Linked DNA regions of Homo sapiens: region 2 is linked to region 1. The links come from fine-mapping of genetic effects on plasma protein levels. A gene starts in region 1. The other region holds a variant in brackets. All regions are shown on one strand. Distances are between the middles of the regions. Region 1 holds the start of RAB44 (RAB44, member RAS oncogene family). Region 2 overlaps RAB44 (RAB44, member RAS oncogene family).

Evidence for each region. PIP is the chance, under the fine-mapping model, that this variant and not a neighbour inherited with it causes the effect. Protein levels are from antibody-based Olink assays in UK Biobank. Linkage for the fine-mapping came from a reference panel and not from the study's own genotypes, which makes the PIPs less certain.
Region 2: its variant is fine-mapped to the plasma level of the RAB44 protein (UK Biobank, PIP above 0.99). The variant lies in the coding sequence of RAB44. If it changes the protein, the assay may bind it differently, which can mimic a change of level.

The regions. Positions count from the first base shown.
Region 1 is chr6:36,694,591-36,699,965 of GRCh38, reverse strand. RAB44 (RAB44, member RAS oncogene family) reads right to left here and starts at 2,140. Exons shown (of 14, transcript NM_001257357.2): 1 at 2,051-2,140.
Region 2 is chr6:36,728,333-36,733,707 of GRCh38, reverse strand. It overlaps RAB44 (RAB44, member RAS oncogene family), which reads right to left. Exons shown (of 14, transcript NM_001257357.2): 12 at 4,907-5,008; 13 at 2,959-3,035; 14 at 524-1,705. The coding sequence ends at 1,615. Among named protein-coding and RNA genes, the nearest start is that of RAB44, 33 kb to the right of the region's middle. The variant C/T (reference allele first, on the strand shown) is at 3,014.

The DNA.
Region 1 (5,375 bases):
AGAACAGCGCTTGGCACACAGTTGGTACTCTGCAAATATTTGCTGAATATATGATCCACATAAAGCCACTTAGGAGTGCGCTTGGTATCAGTGACTACCAGGTAAAGGTAGCAATGACAACAGTGGTGATGATATTGATAAAGGTGAATTCTATTTGAGGCACATAAAAGCCAGGTTCCATGCAGATACAATTGATCCCATTTGACAGATGAGGAAACTGAGGGAGGTTCCAAGAGGCAGAGTGACCTGCCCCAGCCATGATGTCAGTGGTAGAACTACACCAGACTCTGCTCTTCTGGTTGGTCATGGGATGGACTTCCCCAAGGCTACAGAGGTGGCTCTTCCCTGGGCAGAAGGCCCCTCTGGGGATGACAAACACCCAGTGGAGTAGCCCTGAGTGGGACAAGGGCTTTGGAACGGGGTGGGCGTTGACAGGCTTGGCTCCTGTGGTGACGCCCAATGTCTCATGTACTTCCGGCAATGGAGCTAACACGGCCAAGGGAGCAAGATAAGATTCCCTGTGCAGAAGCCTCCAGAAGCAAAGTCCACTGTGATGTGAGTGTCACATCGCAGCCTGCCGGGCTCCCACAGGTGTAGGATGTTAGAATCCTGGAAGAAATTCCCTGCAGCCACATCCTAGGACATGTGGCATTCCTGACTTTCCTTTCTGGGAGTTCCTAGCCAAGCTACACCTCCACAGCCCATTTCCAGCAGTCCCCTGGCATTTTTTAAGAAAATAGCACCTTCCAGACACCTCGCCTGCCCCACCTCAGCATCTGCCCTCTCTGCCAGTCAATCCTTCTCTCCCAGGAGGGGTACTCAGCCACCCGCTCCTTGCCTGACAGGTGGCCTGGGGCAGGAAGGCAGCAGGTGCCCTCCAGCCATCGCCACCTCAAAATCAGTCACTTGTCACCATCAGGTGGGATGGTGCACTCACCCCTCGTGCCTTCACATTCAGATCCCTGACAGCACCCCCACGGCCTGACAGCACAACCTAAAAACAGTCTGTGTCCCTTCTAGGCCAGGCCTGGTCCCTCAGAGACAGCAAGGACATCCTTCAGTCAATCCACAAATGTACACGTGCAAACGTGCACGCACACACACCCTCCTTGGCCATCATCCTCACCCTCCAATCCCTCACCATCAGCCTCTCAGTCAGACACAGCACCCCTCACGGCCATTCCATCATTCCATTCTGCATGTGCAAATGCCGTCGCCCAGCACACACATCCCTCCGAGTCAGCTGGCAGGGCCACCCTGCCAGCGCCCTTCTCCTCCACCACTTTCCCCTTAGTGCATCCTCATGCCTCACGTCCTTAAGAGTGGGGGACCCCTTCATGGCTAGGACACACATATAGCCCCTCAGCATGACCACCTCTCCCCACATCCCTCACCTAAGAAATCGCATAAAACTTGAAGCCAAACATGAGAGCAAATGAATCCCACTCCCAAGCACCTGCGGGAATCCACTACCACCGTGGTATTCTGTTAGGCAGCAGGCACCACAGGCTGCCCACCAGGAAGTGGAAGCCAGAGAAGAAGAGTGGGGTGGGGCAGCAGGCAGCAGCAGATTACAACCTGGCATGGGCCCTGCCTGGGGCCTCCGGGTATCCATCACTGTCTCACCAAAGGGCGCTCAGAACTGGGTCTGCTCTCCACTTGGCTGGCTTCAATAGCTGTAAATAATAGCCACAGTCGCTAAACCCCAGTGGTCCAAGTCAGTGGGCCTGAGAGACCACCTAGTGTCTTGTTCCAGTCTACTTATCCTCACTCCTCCTCTCCTAACTAACAGAGAAACTGAGGCTCTGAGAAACCAGGTGACTTGCCCTAGGTCACACAGCCATTTACGGGTAGTGATGTACCCCAGCCTCTTGCCCAAGTGCTTTCCCATCCCCTCCCTTAGACCATGCAGAGAGCTCCAAATGCAGGAGAAAAGAGGGCTCTGCCTTTTGCACCCTTGACATAGAAGTTAAACAGGGACCCCAGCTCCCTCCCCCATCCTCATCCTTCCAAAGAAAAAGAAGCATTGCAACCTTGGGATGGCTCCTACCTCTCAAAGGCTCCCAGTGGAACACACAGCCCTGGGCTCTGGGACCTGGTGGTAGGGTGACTGCTGCCCTGCGGAGCCCACGAGCTCTAGAACTGTTAACAGTCTTGTCTTGCTTAATCTCCCTTTCCGTTCCCCAGCGAGCCAATCTCCTGTGCTCATCTACAGGACTTCCTGTGGAAGCGACCACTGGCGGCCCTTTCACAATTTTGCCTGGCACCCCCAGGCATCCCTGCCCTGATTGGTGTCTTGAAGTGGAGAATGCTGGAGCTGGCAGGGAGGCCCTCCTAAGCAGAGGCTCCAAAGAGTGAGATGGACTGCTCAAGATCACCCAGCCCTTAGTGGCACAGCCAGGACTGGGCCTCAGTCTCTGGTTGCCAAGGCAATGCCTTATCCCAGACAGCAGCAGGTTGATGGGCACAGCCGTGGCTGAAGCTAAGTGTATGGGATGCCCCGGGAGAACTGCCCATCCTGCCTCACTTCAGGCCCTCACTCTCAGACAGTGTCTTTGAGCCTCAGGGGAGGCTTTATATCTAAACCACCTTTTAGGGAACAATCTAGTCTGATACCAAAATACACTGTAGAGCTACAACCATCAGAACAGTGTGGAATTGGAGCATGACTATAGACAGATGAATCAGTGGAACAGAATAATGAAATAGACTCAAATATTTGTGGGACAGGAATAGACTCAAATATTTGTGGGGATTTAGTGTATCATAAAGGCACCACTTCAAATCATTGGAGAAGAGATGGTTTATTCAATAAACTATGTTGGGAGAATGGGCTAGGTATCTGCAAAAAACAAAGAGCTCTAACTCTAAAAGCATTCCAGATGGATAAAAGACATAAGCATTTTAAAAATCAAAATCACATAATTATATGTTGTTTGGGATTTACTTCAAAATTATTGAAGAGTGTGGAGAATAGGTAGGACATAGATGAAACAAGACTGGCTCTGGACCTGTTCTGATCCCTGCTGGAGTTAATGAGGGTACTGCAGGCTCATTATGTTCTTCTGCTTTTCTGTATGTTTGAACAAATGCCATAAGAAATCATGGCATAGTTCATTTGCCATGGTTGCAGAAGAAGGAAGGAAAGAAAAGGAAGGAAGGAGGGAAGGAAGGGAGGGAGGGAGGGAGGGAGGAAGGAAGGAAGAAGGAAGAGAGAGAAAGAGAAAGAGAAAGAAGAGAGAGAAAGAAAGAGAGAGAAAGAGAAGAAAGAAAAAAGAAAGAAAGAAGAAAGAAACTAAGAAAGAAAGAAAGAAAGAGAAAGAAAGAAAGAAAGAAAGAAAGAAAGAAAGAAAGAAAGAAAGAAAGAAAGAAAGAAAGAAAAAAAGAGGAAGGAAGGAAGGAAAGATAGATCTGTCATGGGATAGGCTGGGTGTGGTGGCTCATGCCTGTAATCCCAGCACTCTGAGAGGCTGAGGCAGGAGGATCGCCTGAGCCCAGGAATTCAAGACCAGTCTGGACAACATAGTGAGACCCCGTCTCCATTAAAAAATAATAATAATAAAGAAGGAGAAGAAGAAGGAGGAGGAGGAGGAAGAAGAAGAAGAAGAAGAGAAAGAAGAAAAAAAGGAAGAAAGAGATCATGGGATAATTTTTAAATAATCTTGGATTAGGCAAGGCCTTTCCAGATATATCACAAAGCATTAGAAGCCACAAAAGAAAATATTGAGCCATTCAACCATACGGAAACTTTTTAAAAATAAATAAAACTGAATGGCAAAAAAAGGTCACCACTGATAAGTCAAAAGGCAAACTCTGAAAAAATACTTACGTATCATAGAAAATAAGTTAATTTCCTCCCTCTGTAAAGAACTCCTGCAGATCAATGAAAGACCAATAATGCATTAGAGAAATTGGCACCATATGTGAATAAACAATTCATGGAAAAATAAATATCAATGGATTTAAACATATGAAAAATATTTATAAAAGTAAACATTTCTGTTTATAAAAATATAATAAGAGAAATAAAAGATAAAACTACGTACCATCACAAAGAAGATGAGGGTAAAAATAAAAAATAAAACTACACCGAGACATCATTTTCAGCTATTCAATTAGTAAGATCCAAAAAGTGATATATTATGTCATAAAGGATGTAGGAAACACATTCACACATTATTGGCAGGAATATAAACTGGTACAACTTTTATGAAAAGAAGTGTATAATATCTGTCAACATTTAAAATGCAAAAATCTTTCTACCCAGCAATTTCACTTTCAGTCATTGATTCCACAGATGATATACAATATGACAGTATGGAAGGATACTCATTACAGTATTGTCTGTGGTAGCAAAGGATTGGAAATGATCTAAATTTCCATCAGTAGGGAGCTGGTTAAATGAGCTCTGATACATCCGAACATTGGCATACTCTGCACCGTGAAGAAAATGAGAAAGATCCAGGTGGAGTGATATGGAATGACCTTCAAGATATTGTGTCATATGAAAAAAGTAAGGTGCAGAACAGTGAGGATAGTGTGCTTTTTATGAAGAAAAAAGTGTATGTGTGTGTATGAAATATATGCAATAGATAAGGGCCGTGATATAGTTAAGTTTTATGTCCTCACCCAAATCTCATCTTGAATTATACTCCCTATGTGTCAAAGGAAGGAAGTGATTGGATTATGGGGGCAGTTTCCCCCATGCTGTTCTCGTAACAGTGAGTGAATTCTCAAGAGAGCTGATGGTTTTATAAATGGCAGTTTTTCCTGTGCTTATATACTTTCCTCCCCTGCTGCCATGTGAAGAAGGTCCTTGCTTCCCCTCACCTTCCGCCATGATTGTAAGTCTCCTGAGGCCTCCCCAGCCATATGGAACTGTGAGTCAATTAAATCTCTTTCCTTTGTAAATTACCCAGTTTCCGGTATTTCTCTATAGCAGTGTGAAAATGGACTAATACAGGCCAGGTGAGGTGGCTCACACCTGTAATCCTAGCACTTTTGGAGGCTGAGACAGGCAGATTGCTTGAGCCCAGGAGTTAAAGACCAGCCTGGGCAACAAGGTGAAACCTTGTCTCTATAAAAAATAAACAAAATTAGCCAGGCGTGGTGGCGCATGTCTGTAGTACCAGCTACTCGGGAAGCTAAGGTGGGAGGATCGCCTGAGCCCTGGAGGTCAAGGCTGCAGTGAGCCGTGATTGTACCACTGCACTCCAGCCTGGGCGGCAGAATGAGGCCCTGTCTCAAAAAAAGAAAAAAATAGATAAGCACACACATTCATATATGATTGTAAATGCATAGAACATTTCTGACAGGATATACAAGAAACTAGTCAGATTTGGGCTGGATAGAAGTGTTGGGATGGAGGAGGGGGC
Region 2 (5,375 bases), 34 kb before region 1:
GGCTCACTGCTGCTGAGACGTTCCTTTCAGAACTGAGAAGAGGGGTTGGGGCCAGGGCCTAAGACTGTGTGATGCAACAGCCCTCTGTTGCTCCCTCTTTCTCCTTCGTTCTCTCTCTCTGTAACTCTGTTCCTTGAACTGTCTTTGCTTGTCCCCCTATGAAACTGGGGTTTCCATTGATTCAGCCAGGAAATTCCCCAGTACCTGAAGGATTACAAAATACCAAACCCAGGCTGGGGGCGGTGGCTCACGCCTGTCATCCCAGCACATTGGGAGGATCACTTGAGCCCAGGAGTTTGAGACCAGCCTAAGCAACATTGCAAGACCTTGTGTTTGCAAATAGCTAAAAAATTAGCCGGATGTGGTGGCATGTGCCCATGGTCCCAGCTACTTGGGAGGCTGAGGTGGGGGAATCACTTGAGCCCAGACAGTTGAGGCTGTTGTGAGTGGCGATCATGCCAATGTACTCCAGCCTGCGCAACAGAGAGAGATCCTGTCTCAAAAAACAAACAAACAAATTCAGTGCCTGGCACATGTTGTATATTCAATTTGTGATGATGGTAAGATGTGACAGACATACAAACGAAGACCATGGCCGTCTCTCCAAGACTCTAAAGCAAGCTCTCCGAGGGCACTGGAAACCCCAGCCCTAGCTGATAAGGGGCAGCCACCATTCAGGAGGTGAATATTATGGAATTCTGGAAACTTCCACAAAAGCTCCAAATAGAAGTGTGTGAATGATTCTGAGTCTCGGCTCCCCAGCTGCTTGGACCCCCCAGCCACACCCTAGCTGCCCCTCAAATGCATCCAGAGACTGACAACTCAGGCCAAAGCCCTGTGCTTGGGGACACCATGGCATTGGAGCAGGGGGCGGGACCCCCAAATGTGACCCCTGGGAGGTGTGTTTTGTATGGTGGGGAAAGGGAGTGAGGTTGGGGCTCTGGAAGACAGGAGGGCATCGAGGCATATCAGAGGCCTTTGGAACATTACTCTTCCCAGGAACCAGATTCTGCTGGGAAGAAAGCCCATGCTTGCAAATAGAAATAGCGAGGGAGACCAGGCCAACAGCGCCCTGCCAAGCAGAGCACAGAGGGACCGCTCTAACACCGAGCAACATGTGATTAACAGGTTACACTAATTAGGAGCCAGCAGCACCCAAGGGAGCTCCTTGGGAAGTTTCTCTCCTCCTCCTCCACATCTCTTTTTTCTGATTATGTATTGAATACTGTTATTGTTGAAAATCTGAAAATACAAATATGTGTAAAATGGAAAGTAACACCCCCCCCCCACATTCTCCCTAAAATTTTACACCCACAGATGTGCGGCCAATATTTTGGTGTATTTTCCTTAAGTCGTTTTTCTAGACTTTCTTTGTTTGGAGAGTTTTGCCATACCCCTGCCCCTCAAGCCTTGTTCACTCAGCAAAGCCCTCCTTTGGAGTGTGAAAGGCAGAGGTGATGCGGCCCTGCTCTGGGATCCGAGTCCTGAGTTGAGAAGGGTTTTCCTGAACCTCCAAGCTGGTCCTCTGTGTCGTTGCTGTCCAGGAACAAAGGACAGGAGCTGAGGGACAGGAAACCCCATGGGTGTCCATCCTACCCAGGACAGGACAGGTGATCAGGAGCAACAGCCGAATCTCTTGGGCGGCCTCTTGGGGGCCACCTTCACCAGCGAGTCCTTCAGGCCTTCTTCTTGCATCCTGAGTGACCTATGTGACAGTGCCAGGCATCAGGCCTCTCTCTCACCTCCTACGGGCAGCACGGATGGGCCCATGGGTGCAGCTGGGGGGTGGGAGGCCGCACCCACAACCCCCACAACAGCTCTGCCCCTGCCCTGCATTCCACATGAGACCCGAAGAATTGAGTCACTGAGACTTTGACCTTCTCTTTCTGGCCTACTATGTGCCAGGCACTGTGCAGGACTCTGACTATGACAAAGAAGCCACCATTCCCTCCCTTGAGTAGTGAGAGAGACAGACAGGAAAAGGGGTGACTGCAGCCCGGGAATGATGGGGAGGCACACAGGGACTTCACACCAGGTCCTGGAGGGATCTGGGGAGGAAGGAGATGGTGACCGAACTGAGCCATGGACAAGGTATGCCAGCAGAAAGGGTGGGGGAGGTGCATCCCAAGCAGAGGGCCATGGCGCGGCTCAGTGCCGAGAGAGCTTGGAGGCTGGGGAAGCAAAAGAAGTCCATTCATTTCTTCGTGATATATTTACTGTGTGCCAGATGGTGCTCATCTGATCTAGCTCCCCTCATGCCTTACTCATTTTATTCATTTATGGAGCACCTAGGTCCCAGGTATGGGGAGAGGGGCTGAACAAAACAGACATGGCCCTGCCTTCCTGGACAACAAGAAAACAGATAAATGCATATATCATTAATATGTGTCGTGTCAAGAAGGGCCATGAAGGACACAAACAGGGGCTGTGATCCAAAATAGTGATGGCAGGTGGGTGATCAGGGAGGGAGTCTCTGAGTGGCTGGAACTTGGCAAGTGTGTGTGTGTGAGTGTGAGTGTGTGTAAGAGTGTGAGTGTGTGTGGGTGTGAGTGAATGTGTGTGTGTGTAGGGGTGGGGGAGATGGCACTAGAGATGCTGCAGGCCATTGCAAAGCATTTGGATTTTAATGGAAGCTACTGGAAGTTTGGGAGCAGAAGAGAGACACTCCTTTTCTCAGCCCTCTTTGCAAATGAAAAAACTGAGGCTCAGAGAGCCTAAGTGCCTGTGGGGAGTGATTCAGCGAACGGGAAGGGCAGAGCTGGAGTCAGGAGACTCTCAGTGCAGGGCTCTCTCTCCCCTCAGACTGGTGAGCCCAGGTCTTTAACTAGGTGCTTCCCTGACCCATTTCCTCAGAATGGGCCTTCCTGTCCCACCTGGGAGTCAAGAGTGGGGCCGGAGCTGTCCCAGAGGATTCTGCAAGGGGGGGGGTGGGGGCGGCGGGGGGCGGGCAGCACTTACCTGGCCAGGTTTACTACAGGCTCCAGGATGTTGTGACCCAAGGCGGCACTGCACT[C/T]CCCAAAATAGACCCCCAGTTCCTGCAGGCCAGACAGGGAGGGACATATGTGCCTTGGGAGAGACAACTGAAAGGCCAGGCCATACCCCGCCACTAAAGTCCCGGCCATCAGAGTCCCAATGCATCCCTAAGCTGACCTCAGTGGCGAGCAAGACAGCCCCATCTCAGCGTGGGCCACGGTCCCTGCCTGGAGCCCTTTGCCCACTGTCCCTTCACCCCGGCTGGCCAAGGTGTCAAGGAATGCATTGAAGAGACATTTCACAGCCTTCGGAGTGGCATGGGAAGCCTGCATCCCAACTTGGAGAAATGCCCCTGGAGACATTTTATAAATGTTAGTTATGTTTTTTAATTTCAGAAATATTTCATTGGGGGAATATTGGAAGATATAGTATAAGACAGTACCAGCTCAATATCTAAACCACTGCTGTTAGTGTTTGGGTAGATATTGCCATTCTGTTTTATATAACCCTTTTACGGGGCGGGGGCTAACTGTCCTGTACAGTTAGGTTAAACCACACGAAATTGCTATTTTTGGCAAGCTCCAGTCAAATATCAGCAATTTCATATGTTTCAACCTAACCTATATCTAGATTTGTAGCTGCTTATATGATTTTCTATTATATTGTAAGCATTTCCCCCACACCCTTAAATATTTTTCCAAGACAGGATTCTTAATGGCAAATACTAACCTCTCACATGAACATCCACAGTTTAACCACCAATTGCTGCCAAATGTTTGTTCTTATAAATAATATTTGAAAACCCTCATATAAACCTGTTCGATTGTACGTTATACATGGGTATCCATTAGGTGTTCCTTTAGGGATTATTACTTCTGAGTCTTCCCTTACGATAAATTGCTAGAGGATAAATTACTATGTCAAAGGGATGAGTTACTACTTTTAAGAAAAAGGCCGAGCATGGTGGCTCACGCCTGTAATCCCAGCACTTTGGGAGCCCGAGGTAGGCAGATCCCTTGAGGTCAGGAGTTCCAGATCAGCCTGGCCAACATGGTGAAACCCCGTCTCTACTAAAAATACAAAAATTAGCCGGGCGTGGTGGCACATGCCTGTAATCCCAGCTACTAAGGAGGCTGAGGTGGGAGAATCGCTTGAACCCGGGAGTCGGAGGTTGCAATGAGCCAAGATCGTGCCACTGCACTCCAGCCTGGGTGACAGAGCAAGATTCCATCTCAAAAAAAAAAAAAAGAAAGAAAGAAAGAAAAAAAATTCCCTTCCAGCAGGAGCCACAATGATGACCTCACAATTTACGGGAAGTGGGAAGAGAAACAGGAAGGAAATACAGTAGGAAGATGCCAAGAGGGGTTGTGTGAGAGGTGGGGCGAGGAGTGATTTTTCCCTCTATTTTTATTACTCTCCAGATTTTCTGGAATGTGGTTAAATGCCATTCATGAATAGATAGTGTTCACTGTCTGGCAGTGGGGCTTTTGATGTAATCATCCCAAGGGAGAATTTGAGTCTTAAAATAGGAGAACTTAGAAGGCAGCACGTTAATTAGAGACCAGAGATAAAATTAAAATTTGATTGGGAATTTTAAGCAAAGCTTTCAAAACCTTTTTACTCTGAAGCTATTTCTTATGTAGGTGGGGACATGGTGTGGGAATGTGCTAATTCAACAGTGAGGTTCAGTGTCACGCCCGCCACTCCAGCCTTGGGTTTGGGCTTAAAGCGCATCTCCAGAGGCCAGGGCTGTGTGGGAGGCAGAGGTGGCTAGGCTGCTGTCCACTCTGAACAGGCCTTTGGTTGGGGCAGGGGCAGGAATGGGCCACGGGTTCTTCTCGGCTGCCCAGGTCAGGTGATGCCTATCCACCACCTGCCAGGGAGGTGTCTGCCCAGTCCACGCACAGAGACGGGCTGATGCCCAAGTGCTTACCTGGGCCAGTTGCTGCCCAGCTTCCACGGACACTTGCCGTTCCTCCTCACAGTCCATCTTGTTTCCCAGGAGAAGGATGACCACCCCATCCGACCCTGCATCCTGCACACAGAACATGTTCTGTCAGCCACACCCACTGTGTGCCAGGCTCCTGGCACATTTGCCTTCCTAGAAGCTGAACTGTGTCCCCCGCATGTTCCCCCTCCCAGGCCACATCCACTCCATAACCTTCTCACCTGGACCCTTTCCCCCATCCTTCCTCTCTGCTGATAAACATCTCACTTATTTTCCAAGGCCAACCTTAAGAACACCTCCCCCAGGAAGCCTTCCTGGGTTGTTCCTGCCCATGTCCTCTCTTCCTGCCTGTTCTGAACAGTCCAGCACTTGATTATACATTTTCCCAATTGTCTCATGAATAATAATAATAGTTTCTGATTAGTGAGTGATTGCTATACACCAGGTGCTGTGC